Regions from separate parts of the Homo sapiens genome. Here region 2 is linked to region 1. Evidence: fine-mapped expression QTL. Tissue or cell type: whole blood. Region 1 holds a variant in brackets; the other region holds the start of a gene. All regions are shown on one strand. Distances are between the middles of the regions.

Region 1 (7,856 bases):
AAGACACCAAACCAATCCAAGGAGCTCAGAGAACACAGAGCAGGATAAATTCTTTAAAAAGAAACTAAGCTTATTGTATTCAAACTAAGCTTATTGTATTGATACCTGGTAGTTATAACTTACCAAATACACTGCCCAACATCTCCAGATGATCTATTATTTCTGAAAGTTTCCTTTATTACATTTCTTACTTCAGGGAGATATAGCCTTCGCTTCATGTTATGGTTGGTGCAGTCAGTATTCTCAGAAAGAAAGTACTGGTTCCATTTTACCTCCATCTTTTGTTTCCTGTCAGAAAACCTACCATACCACCAAGTACTCCTTCTCTACACTGCCTCTGATATTTAAGTAATTTGAGAATTCTGTTGAGACTATCTCCCTTTTTTGGTATGATGAATCTGGTCCTAAATTGCATGCCAAAGACTTTGAGAACTAAACTGTAGACCCAGATCTCATGTCCCAGACTGGCCTTTTGTTACCCACACAATGAATGGGTTAAATTGCTTGGCAGGGGACAGTCCAATGACCACAACCAAGGAGGATTTCCCAGGGGGATTTTATTACTTGCGATAAGTAAGGAGGACACTGGGAATAATTCCCCAAAGCAATGCCTCCCTGAGCAATGGTGCAAACATGGCTTTTATTAGTCTGGTTAGCTGAGTCATTGTATGTAGAGGTGGAGTCAAGGCAGCGCAGTCCCAGTTGTCGGTTATGCTGCTACATATGTCACATGTATAGAAAATGGTGAATAAGCTCCTCCTTGGACAGGATTTTAAGTATGGTGATGAGGAAAGTTGGCCAAAGTTCATCTCCAACTCAGGCATCTCTGGGTCCAACTGGTCTTTGTTTTTCCTGGGCTAAGCTTCTTCCTGGAACTTTTTAAAACAAAAATTCAAGATGTAACAGTTACAAGTGTGTAACTTTTTCACAGTGCGTACCCAAAACCCAAGGACCCTGGGTTACACTTTAGGTGCCACCCATGTGGGACCTATCAGAAGAGTACTACAAAGGCTTTGAAAACTGAACTGACATTGGAACCACAACCCTCAGAAGGCTGGTCAAAACTTATGACTTGAACCCAAATGGGTTAATTACCCTTTAAAACATAAATATCAACATCCTCCACCAAATTTAACCAAGACCCAGAGCATCCTAATGACATTCAAAATGTCCAGGATACAATCGATATTAATTGGCAGGTGAAGAACCAGGAAAATCTCAACTCACGTTGGGAAAAAATGTAACAGATGCAGAATGTAAGTTGCCACACATGTTGGAATTATCAAGACTATAAAGCTGCTATTCAAATGGAAAGTTTAAAAGTCTCAGAGAAGTAATAGAAAATACAAAGAATAGCCCCATGGAAATTTTAGAACGGGAAAATACAAAAACCGTCATCACATCATATCCGGGGCACATGCTGTCAACATTGCTCATCACTGTTGATGTTAACCTTGATCACCCGGCTGAGGTAGTATTTGATGGGTTTCTCCCTGTAAAGTTATTCTTTCCCCTCCCCCTATTTTACTGTTTAGTGGGAAGTCACTATGTGCAGCCCATGCCTAAAAAGGGAGTAGTTGGTGGGCACGGTGGCTCACGCCTGTAATCCCAGCACTTTGGGAGGCTGAGTGGGTGGATCACCTGAGGTCAGGAGTTCGAGACCAGCTTGGCCGACATGGTGAAACCCCGTCTCTGCTAAAAATACAAAAATTAGCCAGGCATGGTGGTGCACGCCTGTAATCCCAGCTATTCAGGAGGCTGAGGCAGGAGAACTGCTTGAACCTGGGAGGCAGAGATTGCAGTGATCCTGCCATTGCACTCCAGCCTGGGCGATGAGCAAAATTCCATCTCAAAAGAAAAAAAAGTGAGTAGTTATATTTCCCCTCCTTGCGGTGGAGTATCTACATTCTTCTGCATGAGAAATTTGTCAGTTATCTCCTATTTATTCAATTATTTATATTATGAATTCATGGATTCCTATTTTATACTTTGGGTATAATCCAATACTATGTTGTTTATTTTACTGCTCAGATTATTCCTGTGTTGGCCATTGGGAACTTTTTCAGTTGACATCTGTGTCCCTTTGACAAACTCCTGTCATTTTGTGGGGAAGAGGGAGTAGCACTTTCTTACTTTCTACCGCTACAAAATCCTCCAGTCTTATCTTGTATTTCTCTTCCCTAACCCTAAAGTCAATCATTCTCATTTCTCTAATGATAAATGATGTTAAACATCTTTTCATATGCTTTCTTATTATCTGTATATCTTCTCTGATGATTACCAAGGATGGGAAGGGTAGTAGGGGGAAAGTGGAGATGGTTAATGGGTACAAAAAATAGAATGAATAAGAATTAGTAGTTGATAGCACAACAGGGTGATTACAGTCAAAAATAATTGTACATTATAAAATAACTAGTATAATTGGATTATTTATAACAAAGGCTGAAGGCTTGAGGTGATAAATACCCCATTTACCCTGATGTGACTATTACACATTGCATACCTGTATCAAAATACCTTGTATACCCCATAAATATATAACCTACTATGTACCCATTTAAATAAAAAAAGTTTTTAAAAAAGAAATAGTGCTGAGACAATTGAATATCCACATGCAAAAGATAAAGTTTGACATTTATCTTACACCATACACAAAAATTAACTCAAAACCAACCAGAGACCTAAATGTAAGAGCTGAAACTATACAACTCTTATGGAAACATAGGCATTAATCTTTATGGCTGTGAATTAGGCAATAGTTTCTTAGGTAATACACAAAAATCATAAGCAACAAAAGAAAAAATTGGATGTTAGACTTCATTAAAATTTAAAACTTTTGTGCATCACTATCAAGAAAGTGAAAGACAATCATAGAATGGGAGAAGATATTTGGAAATCATACATACAATAAGTATCTAATACCCACAATATATAAAGAGCTCTTACAATGCAACAACAAAAATACAAAAAACTCTATTTATAAATGGGAAAAGGATTTGAATAGACATTTCTCCAAAGAAGATATACAAATAACCACTAAGCACATGGAAAATGTTCAATGTAATTAGCCATTAGGCAAGTGCAAATCAAAACTACAATGAGATACCACTTCACACCCACTAGGATGGCTAGAATTTAATAGATAAATAAAAAGTATTCCCACATTGCTGGTAGGAATGTAAAAATAGTGCAGCTGCTGTGGAAAAGAGTTTGGCAGTTCCTCAAAAGTTGAAACGTGGAGTTTCCTTATGACCCAGACATTCTATTCCTGGTTATTTATGCAAGAGAACTGACAACATGTGTTTACACAACACTAAAACTGGGGCCAGGTGTGGTGGCTCAGGACTGTTGTTCCAGCACTTTGGGAAGCTGAGGCAGGCAGATAACCTGAGGTCAGGAGTTTGAGACCAGCCTGGCCAACATGGCAAAACCCTGTCTCTA[C/CA]AAAAAATACAAAAATTAGCTGGGTGTGGTGGTGCGCACCTGTAGTCCCAGGTACTCAGGACGCTGAAGCAGGAGAATCGCTTGAACCCAGGAAGTGGAGGTTGCAATAAGCCAAGATCACACCACTGCACTCCAGTCTGGGTGACAGAGTGAGACTCCATCCCAAAAAAAAAAAAAAAAGTGGTACACATATGTTCATAGCAACAGTGGTCATAAGAGCCAAAAAATGGAAACAACCCAAATGTCCTGAAACTGAAGAATGTATAAACAAAATGTGGTATCTCCTTAAACAAAATGTGGTATATCCTAACAGTGGAATAACACTCAACCATATAAAGGAATGTAATACTGAAACATGCCACAACATGAATGAACCTCAAGTTATGCTCAGTGAAAGAAGCCAGACATGAAAGACCACATATTGCATGATTCCATTTGTATGAAAGAGTAGGAAAACCAATAGAGACAAAACCATATGATGGTTGCATGTTTTGGGTGCTAATAAGAGTTTGAGAGTAACATGAGGGGGTAGGGTTTTTTTAAGTTGATGAAAATGTTATTAAATTGGTAGTGTTGATGGATATACAACTCTGAATATACTAAAGGCTATTTAATTGTATACTTTTGTCACTGGTAGAGGATAGTGACTGCAAGTTGTCCAGGTTCTTGGCGTTTTGAACAAGGAATTGGACAAAACTCCTAGCAAAGCAAAGAAAGGATGAAGCAACAAAAGAACGAAAGCAGGGATTTATTGAAAACCAAAGTACACGCCACAGTGTGGGAGCAATCCGAGCAGCGGTTCAAGGGCACGGATACACAATCTTCTTGGGTCCCAGTACCCACTAGAAGTTTCCCTTTGGCCAGTTCATGCTTTGCAGAAAGCAACCAATCAGAGGCTAGGAAGAAGTTACGAAGTTGCAAAGGAAGACTCATCTGCAAACAGCCTGATTTGTTGGGGACAGGCAATTTCCCATCTGCTGCACAGAAAAGGTGGGGGTGTTGCAAAGGGAGTAGCCTCTGGTCCTTGTGTTACTTAGGCAAGGAAAGTTAGAGTTTTCCTTTCAATTTAGTCCTAGGAAGTTGGCGTGAAACAGCCTTAGGTTCCCTTCCTCCAGAACCTATTCTCCTGCCTCACTTTAAGTGGATAAATTATATGGTGTATGAATTATATCTCAATAAAGCTGTTTTAAAAGGGGGTGGTATAAGGAAGAATTCCAAATGATGCTATTTGCGTTTTTCCTTGGTCACTTTGGCTGGGCTCTGGCTACAGTGGATGAGGGATTCTTATGAAGCACTTGTGTAGCAGGAAGAAAAAAAAAATTTCCTAGCTATTGCCAAAGCATCCCTTGGGATCCCCTAACTTACTTGGGGATAATTTGGGATTCAGAAAGAGAAAAAAAAATAGATAACTGCCTTTGTTGAGAATTTCAGGGCAAGAGAAAACTAAGAAAAGAGGGCAGCGTTCTGTTAAAAAAAAAAAGGGATAGAACAACACTGTCCAACAGAAATGACTAAGAGACTCGAGAAGACTGATATTCAGATTGCAGTTACCCGCCGAATCACACTGTGATGTCAGCCTCCCTTGCTGTTACTCCCAAATCAGCATATCAGCAGTAGAACTCTACTGCTTTTTCTGTGTGGTATTGAGGGTTATGAAATTAAAGAGTAGGAACTTGGTCCAGCATGAGTTGCTGCAGTTCTGGAGACAATTGTAACAAGCTGCAACGAGAACTGCAGAAATGAAGAATGAGAATTGAGCAGAAATCAGAGCTATCAGTGATCAAGGGGGCCTAAGCCCCTGAATTCACAGTAATTTTCCTTAAGGATATGGCCGGGTATTTGGATAAATCTATAGATATTAGAGGACACTGACTTATATATGCTTGAAGCCCAGAGTTTCTGGCTTATGACATGTGCTGCAGGTCTGAGGGGCATTCATTTACAAAACTTTGATGATAAGGGGAGCAGAGAATGTGGAAAAACAGAAAAGAGGTAAATGAAGCCAGTGAGACAGGAAGGGGCATTATCTTCAGCAACAGGAATGCCAACAGCAGTCATCAATATTTATTGAGCAGGACAGGGGAGAGACACAGTTTAGGGAGGCTTCTCCCGGCTGACTCTTGAACCAAGCCCATAAAAATTGTGATGCTGACACCAGAAAATTCCAGTGAAAAGGCACAGTCAGGAAATGCTTTAGACTACATGGCCCAAGGGGCCCTTAGAGATCCTTCAACAGCCTCTAATTTGTCACAGACATGAATCCCCACTCACTGGATGTTGGAAAGAAGATTCAATCACAGAGTTTCCTTCAGGCAAGTCAGGTGTCTTTATAACTCTGCAAAGTAGAGAATCAAGAAGAAGCTGAGATTTTTCCTAAGTGGAGAGAGACCTAAATGGAAGTTCAGGAGGGACAACGGACTAGCACTCTTGTCCTTGTTCGCTGGAAGGAACCATCAAGTTGATGGGGATGGACATTGGGATAGATTTTGAGAGCAAGAGAGAACAAAGAAAAGGGTTGGGAGTGGCGGTCAGAACACATCTGCCTAGAACCTGGTTACCTACTTTGTAACATGCAGAAGTTGTACTTCCCAGAAAGGTGAGGGACCTGCCCCGGGAGGAGATCATCAGGACACAAACATCAGTGACAGGAAGAGAGCGTGTCCTTCTCACCTGCTTCTTGAAATTGCTCTTTGGTTTCCACCACTGGGAGGCTATCGGTTGCTTTCTTGTGTCTTCTGGTGCTCTCTGAAGTTAGGAAGTATTTAGAAGAGGAAGATTTGTGCTTCCAGGTCCTCCACCATCTCCCCAAACCCAGAAGCACAAGCTCCAAAAAAGTAAACAAGAGACAGAAACCGCTGACTCCAAACATGGTCTTTAGGAAAATGGTCTTCTCAGAGGGGCGGGACAGATTGCAGGTTATACTACCAAGGCAAGGTTCTCGGCGACATGCAAAGGAGCTGGGCATCTGGAACCCATACAGGTGGTACTGCAACCCCAGGGCTGCCCCCTCCAGGACAAGCCGAGCCCCCAGCTGAGCCACATAAGCCCAGAGCAGCCTGAGGCTTCCAGCCCCTGGGACATCTGTGTTGCCCTCCCGTCCCTGGATCAGGGTCTCCTCCTCCTTCCCCTTTCCTGATAATTCCCAGTGCCAGATCACGTGATACAGAGTGAAACCCATATAGAGGGCGCTGGGTACAGCCACCAAGATGACCTGGAAGACCCAGAAACGCAGCGGGGAGAGGGGGTGGAAGGCATCGAAGCAGGCAGCCTTGCAGCCCGGCTGCTGGGTGTGACACACGAATTCACTCTGCTCATCACCATAGACTCCAGGCCCACTGGCAGCCAGCAGCACAAGGCGGAATCCCAGGAGCACGGGAAGCAAGAGGCGCCCCACGGGGGTGGAGCGCCGGCTCTCCTCCGCCAGCAGCCGCCGCAGGAACCTGCCACACATCCTGTTTTGGAGCAGAGGACAAGAGATCAGTGTTGTTCACTGTCCTTCAGAGGGAGCTCCAGTCCACCTTGTCACTCCTAATCCAAGGATCACTGAAGGCAAGCTTTTTTATTCCTCTCCAAGTATCTGACTGATTAAATACCAAGACTCTGATTGCACCTCTTTACTACTTAATGAAATCATCTATGTAAAATAATAACAGTGAGTGTGTGTGGTGTGGCTCTCTCTTCTGCCCTCCCCTTCTGTACTGCTGGAGTGGAGAGGAACTCTCAGGTTGGAGAGACCAGGATACATCTTCATCTCTCTCTTTCCCTCCTTCCCTCCGTCTCTCTTTCCCAAAGGCTGAACGTAAGAGAGTAGACTGGGATGTTTTGTTAATTTTCCTTTGAAAGGTATTGCTTCCCCAGCTGATGGCTGCCAGGCCTGGTGCTCCTACAGCATCATCTTAAGCAAATTAGTGCTGATGCTGAGAGGGAATGTGCATTCTCTTGCGGTCTTCTTTTCTCTTCCTCCATGCCCTTGGATGATCACAGGTGTGTCTGGATGTCCTCTTCTCCCATCACAGTGGTAAAGTTGAGAGGTAGTTAGGTTATGGGGCTAGATGTGATGGATGAAATGAACAGAGCAAGCATCGAGGCTTGCTTTAGTCTGATGCTCTTAGGCCTTACAAGCTGAGGAAGAAGAGAACATTTGGAAGGTAACCCAGCAGAATTTACCAGAATTACATACTATAGGATTTGGGGCCAGAGCCAGAACTGACTAGATAGAAATTCAGATTTTTGACCCCCACTTGCCATTGTTCCTTGGGCATATTATCTCCCTCATGGTGACAGGCGACCATGATCAAGGATAAGTTTCAGAAATCCCTCTGTTCCCCAGCCAAAATACCACAATGCTACAAGCCCAAGTTCACCATCTCTATATTTGTCCTAATCAGCTGCCTTCCCCAATGCCCAGCAGCTGT
Region 2 (5,805 bases), 500 kb after region 1:
AAACAGTAATTCTCTCTCCCCACACACCATTCAGAATGTGTTCCCAAATTTCCTCTTCCTAACCATCCAATCATTCCCTTCCTTATATTGTTCCTCAAATCCTTGGTCTAAGAGAAGTAAACCCTTTAGCATTGTCCTCTAACCCAGACTCCCTGAGCCTCAAAAAAGCGGTATTTAAAGAGTATATTTCAGCCGGGCGCAGTGGCTCACGCCTGTAATTCCAGCACTTTGGGAGGCCAAGGCAGGTGGATCACCTAAGGTCAGGAGTTCAAGACCAGCCTGACCAACATGGTGAAGCCCCATCTCTACTAAAATACAAAAATTAGCCAGCGTGGTGGCAGGCGCCTGTAATCTCAGCTACTTGGGAGGCTGAAGCAGGAGAATCACTTGAACCCAGGAGGTGGAGGTTGCAGTGAGCCAAGACCGTGCTACTGCACTCCAGCCTGGGCAAAATGAGTGAGACTCTGTCTCAAAAAAAAAAAAAAAAAAAAGTATATTTCAAATCTTTTTTAAGCCAGAGTCTGATCTTCCTTTTTGCATTAATAACAGTATGTGGACTCCTGCTTATTTTCATGCCTCAATTAACTAATAGCAGTTTCCTCCCTCCCTCTCACTTTTTCTCCCTCCCTCTCTCCCTCCTTTACTCCTTCCTCCCTCTTCCCTCCCTCTCTTCCTTCTTCCCTCCTTCTGTCTCCCTTTGTCCCTCCATCCCTTCCTCCCCCTCCTTCTCTCCCTCCCCCTCCTTCCTTGCCCTCCTCCCTTTCTCTCTCCCTCTTCCCTCCCTCCTCCCCCTCTCCTTTCTCCCCCTCCTCCTTCCCTTTCCTCCCCCTCTCCTTCCTACCCCCCTCCCCCTCCTCCCTTCCCTGCTTCCCCTCCTTCTTCCTTCCTCTCCCTCCCTCCCTTCTCCCTCCCCCTCCTCCCTCCCCTTTCCTCCCCCTCCTCCCTTCCCCCTTTCCTCCCTCCCTCTCTTCTCCTTCCCTCCCTCCCGTTTCCTCCCCCTCCTCCCTCCCTCCCCTTTCCTCCCTCCCTCTCTTATCCTTCCCTCCCTCTCTCTTCTCCTTCCCTCCCTCTCTCTCTTCTCCTTCCCTCCCTCCCCTTTCCTCCCCCTCCTCCCTCCCTCCTCCCTTTCCTCCCTCCCTCTCTCTCTTCTCCTTCCCTCCCTCCTTCCTTCCTCCCCCTTCCCTCCCTCCTTCCTTCCTCCCCCTTCCCTCCCTCCTTCCTTCCTCCCCCTTCCCTCCCTTGCTTTCTTCCTTCGTGTTTGTGCACAAGCTCAGCAAGCCCGATTTAAAACTTTTAACAAGAAAGAAGAGGCGGGTGGATCACCTTAAGTCAGGAGTTCGGGACCAGCCTGGCCAATACGGTGAAACCCCGTCTCTACTAAAAATACAAAAAAATCAGCCGAGCACGGTGGCGCGTGCCTGTAATCCCAGCATTTTGGGAGGCCAAGGTGGGCGGATCACCTAAGGTCAGGAGTTCGAGACCAGCCTGGCCAACATGGAGAAACCCCGTCTCTACTAAAAATACAAAATTAGCCGGGCACAGTGGCGGGCGCCTGTAGTCCCAGCTCCTCGGGAGGCTGAGGCAGGGGAATCGCTTGAACCCAGGAGGTGGGGGTTGCAGTGAGCCGAGACTGCGCCACTGCACTCCAGCCTGGGCGACAGAGCGAGACAGTCTTTAAAAAAAAAAAAAAAAAAGCCCCAATTCCAAATCCACCTGCAATCCAAAGGGAAGAAGTTTTGCAGAGAAGTTCTTCCCATTTGTGGGGCGCTCCCATTTTTCCTCTCTTCCCTCACCCCTTATTCTCTCTCAGGGATAGCGGTTCAAGTCGGTGTCCCTGAGCCACACGTCCCCCTCTCTCTTCCCCGTCCCCTCCCTTCCTTCCTCCCACCATGAGGGAATCTCCCCTCCACCCCCACTCCTGCCGAGGCCCCGTGATCCTTATTCTCACTCATATCGTTGGTGCCCGCCAGGAGACTGGGCTATTTTTTTTTTGTCTGTTTCTTGGGGGCGACAGATTCTGAGGAAAAAGGGCGAAGGGCTGGTTGTCGCCCTGAGAAAGTTTCTCCTCAGGCAACGGGTGCCAGGACTGGCAGCGCCTAGCACCTTCACCTACAACCAGAAACTAGCTGGCTACCTTCAGGAGCAAGGAGGACCTAAAGGCGATGGGCGGAACCAGCTGCCGCAGCGACTCCGCAAGCCCCTCACACCTCAACCCAGGTTTCCCGCCACCAAGAAAAGGCACGAGGACGCCCTGAGCACTAGCTCCACCCGAGGGCGGTGCGCTCGCGGGGCCGAGGCGCATGCGCAACTGGAAACAGCGTCTGCGTTTCCGCAGCTGAGGTAAATCCGCCATCTTCCACCCGAACGTCCCGGGAAAACTACAAATCCCAGAATCCTCTTTGGTGTCACATATTTTTAGGCGGCGGCCGCGGCGCCTGATTGTTCCTGAAGCACATCTACTAACTTTTCTGTTTCAGACTGCCTTTTCCTCCCTCTTTCCGTTCTCTAATTCCTCCTCTTCCTGCTGGTCTCCTTCACGCCCTCACCTTAGGATTTTGAGACTCTCCTGGACCCCACTGTCACCCCTGCCGCCCTGTCCTCGGCCCAGCACTCCGCTGGCAGGGAGACCGGGCGGCGCATCTCCCCGGGAAAACGGCGTAGACTCGCTTCTTCCTCATTGGCAGAAGCTGGGGGGGCCCAGCGCGGACCGAACCCCCGTCCCCGCCCACACTCGCTGGTATATAAGTCGGCGTGGCGCCGCGGTGGGTGTTGAGAGGCCCGCGAACTGACGGGCCAGTGAGCGGGCGTCGGGAGTGGGCGGATGCGTTGGGGTTCGGGTCGTGGGTGTTGAGGCGGAGAGGAAGGCGTGGTGTGGCGTCTCCAGGTGATTGCGATTGGGGGAAGGTAGAGGAGCCAGAGAACGACTCAGCCGTTTCGGGGGAAGAGGAAGTTGGACAACATCGGCTGTTTTAGTGCTTTTTATTTTTCCCCAATTCAGCAGAGAATATTTTCAAGGGGGGTGAGTTATAATGACCTATCGCGTTTTACTGAGCCCAGTTCCACTCCCGCCCTTCCTTGGCTTTGTAGGGTCTCCCCTCCGCTCCCTCGGAAGCGCTTCTAAGAAGGTGGGCAGAGGGGGGGAGGTTTGCTACCAACAGCTCATGAATAATTCATGAGCCCCGCCCTTCGTCAGGAAGCCCCGCCCCTCCGGATCGCGCTGACGCACGCTGCGTTTACCAAACTTAAGGAAGCGACGTCACAGGCCCAACCCCTAAGACGGGGGGCGGGGCGCCAGTTTCAGCACGTGCTGCCTCTACCCGCGCAAGCCCAAAAGGGTGTGCGCAGGCGCTGCCCACTAGGGGGGAGGAAGGAGGCGGGGTGGGGAGGTTGTTGGATTTAGAGCCGGGCGGAGACCGCTGAGACTCATTCCTCAGGAACAAGGGTCGGGTGTCAAGGAGACCTTTTCACACCAGCTCCCGTCCCCCGCCTACGGTGGGTGGGATCGCGCGGCAGAGACAAAGGAGATCAGTAGGGCCGGACATAGCTGCGCAGGGAAGTAGGGTGTCAGTTTGGGGTGGTGGGCTTTTGCGGGGGCTGTGGGGGGGTTATATTTAAACTCCCAGAGCCGTTAAGTTGGTTCGTAGTCTGATGCGCGCGCAACCAGGGTGGTGGCGGAGTGCGCATGCGTGGTTCCCGGGCGAAGGGAACGCGCGCTCACCGTGCGCGCTCGCGGCCGGGTGGTAGTGGCGGAGGAGAAAGGGGTCGGCGCACGCGCGGTTGAGTCCTCGAGTAGTTCGGGTCTCGCGGGCCTCTTGTTTTGGTCTCGCGGGCTAGTAGGGCGCACTTGGCGGGGAGGCGCTTGGGCGCGAGACTAGGCGTGAAGAGCAGAGCTGCGCGCGCACTCGGGAAAGGGGGGAAGGGAGCAGGGTCCAGGCAGGGGGGGTTAGGCCCCCTGATCCCCCTCGTTACCCCGACTGGCACGGAATAAGGGGAGGAAATGATCGAGATGGCGGCGGAGAAGGAGCCGTTTCTGGTGCCGGCCCCGCCGCCGCCGCTCAAAGATGAGTCGGGCGGAGGGGGCGGCCCCACGGTGCCACCGCACCAAGAGGCCGCCTCTGGGGAGCTCCGCGGCGGGACGGAGCGTGGTCCGGGTCGTTGCGCGCCATCTGCGGGGTCCCCAGCCGCTGCGGTCGGTCGGGAAAGCCCCGGGGCCGCGGCCACCTCCTCCAGTGGTCCCCAGGCGCAGCAGCACCGAGGGGGCGGCCCCCAGGCGCAGTCGCATGGGGAGGCCCGCCTGTCGGATCCCCCGGGGCGAGCCGCTCCCCCGGACGTGGGGGAGGAGCGCCGGGGAGGGGGCGGGACAGAGCTGGGTCCCCCTGCTCCTCCTCGACCCCGCAATGGCTATCAGCCCCACCGGCCACCTGGGGGGGGCGGGGGCAAGAGGAGAAATAGCTGTAATGTAGGGGGAGGCGGGGGAGGCTTCAAACATCCGGCCTTCAAGAGGCGCAGGCGGGTGAATTCGGACTGTGACTCTGTGTTACCCTCCAACTTCCTCCTGGGGGGCAATATCTTTGATCCCCTGAACCTGAATAGCCTCCTGGATGAGGAAGTGAGCCGCACTCTCAACGCGGAGACCCCTAAGTCATCCCCCCTTCCGGCCAAAGGGCGAGATCCGGTGGAGATCCTCATCCCCAAAGATATTACTGACCCGCTCAGTCTCAATACTTGCACTGATGAGGGCCATGTAGTTCTTGCTTCGCCACTCAAGACTGGTCGGAAGCGGCATAGACACCGGGGACAGCACCACCAGCAGCAGCAGGCAGCCGGAGGGAGTGAGAGTCACCCCGTGCCGCCCACAGCCCCTCTCACCCCCTTACTCCACGGGGAGGGCGCCTCACAGCAGCCGCGGCACAGGGGCCAGAACCGGGATGCCCCCCAACCCTATGAACTCAACACAGCCATCAACTGCAGGGATGAAGTGGTGTCTCCCCTTCCATCTGCTCTGCAGGGTCCCTCAGGCTCCCTATCAGCCCCTCCAGCTGCCTCAGTTATCTCTGCACCCCCATCTTCCTCCTCCCGACATCGCAAACGTCGCAGGACTTCCAGCAAGTCGGAGGCAGGGGCTAGGGGTGGAGGCCAGGGTTCCAAGGAAAAGGGCCGAGGGAGTTGGGGAGGCCGCCACCACCACCACCACCCACTGCCTGCAGCAGGCTTCAAAAAGCAACAGCGCAAGTTCCAGTATGGGAATTATTGCAAATACTATGGGTACCGCAATCCTTCCTGTGAGGATGGGCGCCTTCGGGTGTTGAAGCCTGAGTGGTTTCGGGGCCGGGACGTCCTAGATCTGGGCTGCAATGTGGGCCATCTGACCCTGAGCATTGCCTGCAAGTGGGGCCCGTCCCGCATGGTGGGCCTGGATATCGATTCCCGGCTCATCCATTCTGCCCGCCAAAACATCCGACACTACCTTTCCGAGGAGCTGCGTCTCCCACCCCAGACTTTGGAAGGGGACCCGGGGGCAGAGGGTGAGGAAGGGACCACCACCGTTCGAAAGAGGAGCTGCTTCCCAGCCTCGCTGACTGCCAGCCGGGGTCCCATCGCTGCCCCCCAAGTGCCCTTGGATGGAGCGGACACATCAGTCTTCCCCAACAATGTTGTCTTCGTCACGGTAAGAGGGTCCAGAGGCTCTTGGAATAGGGGCCAGGTGTGAAGATGAGATTAAATGGGAATGTAGCAGGGAAGGTTATGACCCAGATCCTCAAAAGAGGGGTCTGGGTTGGCAAGTGAGAGCCTCTGCTGGGCGTC

The links. PIP is the estimated chance that this variant, and not a neighbour inherited with it, causes the effect.
Region 2: it holds the start of ZCWPW1, and the variant in region 1 is fine-mapped to the expression of ZCWPW1 in whole blood (INTERVAL, PIP above 0.99).

The regions. Positions count from the first base shown.
Region 1 is chr7:99,922,729-99,930,584 of GRCh38, forward strand. GJC3 (gap junction protein gamma 3) reads right to left here and starts at 6,892. Exons shown (of 2, transcript NM_181538.3): 1 at 6,112-6,892; 2 at 538-875. The coding sequence starts at 6,892. The coding sequence ends at 817. LOC101927610 (a long non-coding RNA gene) reads left to right here. Exons shown (of 2, transcript XR_001745296.3): 2 at 1-2,586. RefSeq lists enhancers at 6,105-6,690, 6,691-7,275. The variant C/CA (reference allele first, on the strand shown) is at 3,442.
Region 2 is chr7:100,426,022-100,431,826 of GRCh38, forward strand. It overlaps ZCWPW1 (zinc finger CW-type and PWWP domain containing 1), which reads right to left and starts at 2,682. Exons shown (of 18, transcript NM_001386010.1): 1 at 2,547-2,682. MEPCE (methylphosphate capping enzyme) reads left to right here and starts at 3,810. Exons shown (of 4, transcript NM_019606.6): 1 at 3,810-5,668. The coding sequence starts at 3,998. RefSeq lists silencers at 2,160-2,209, 4,030-4,499 and enhancers at 2,370-2,599, 3,620-3,759, 4,630-4,709.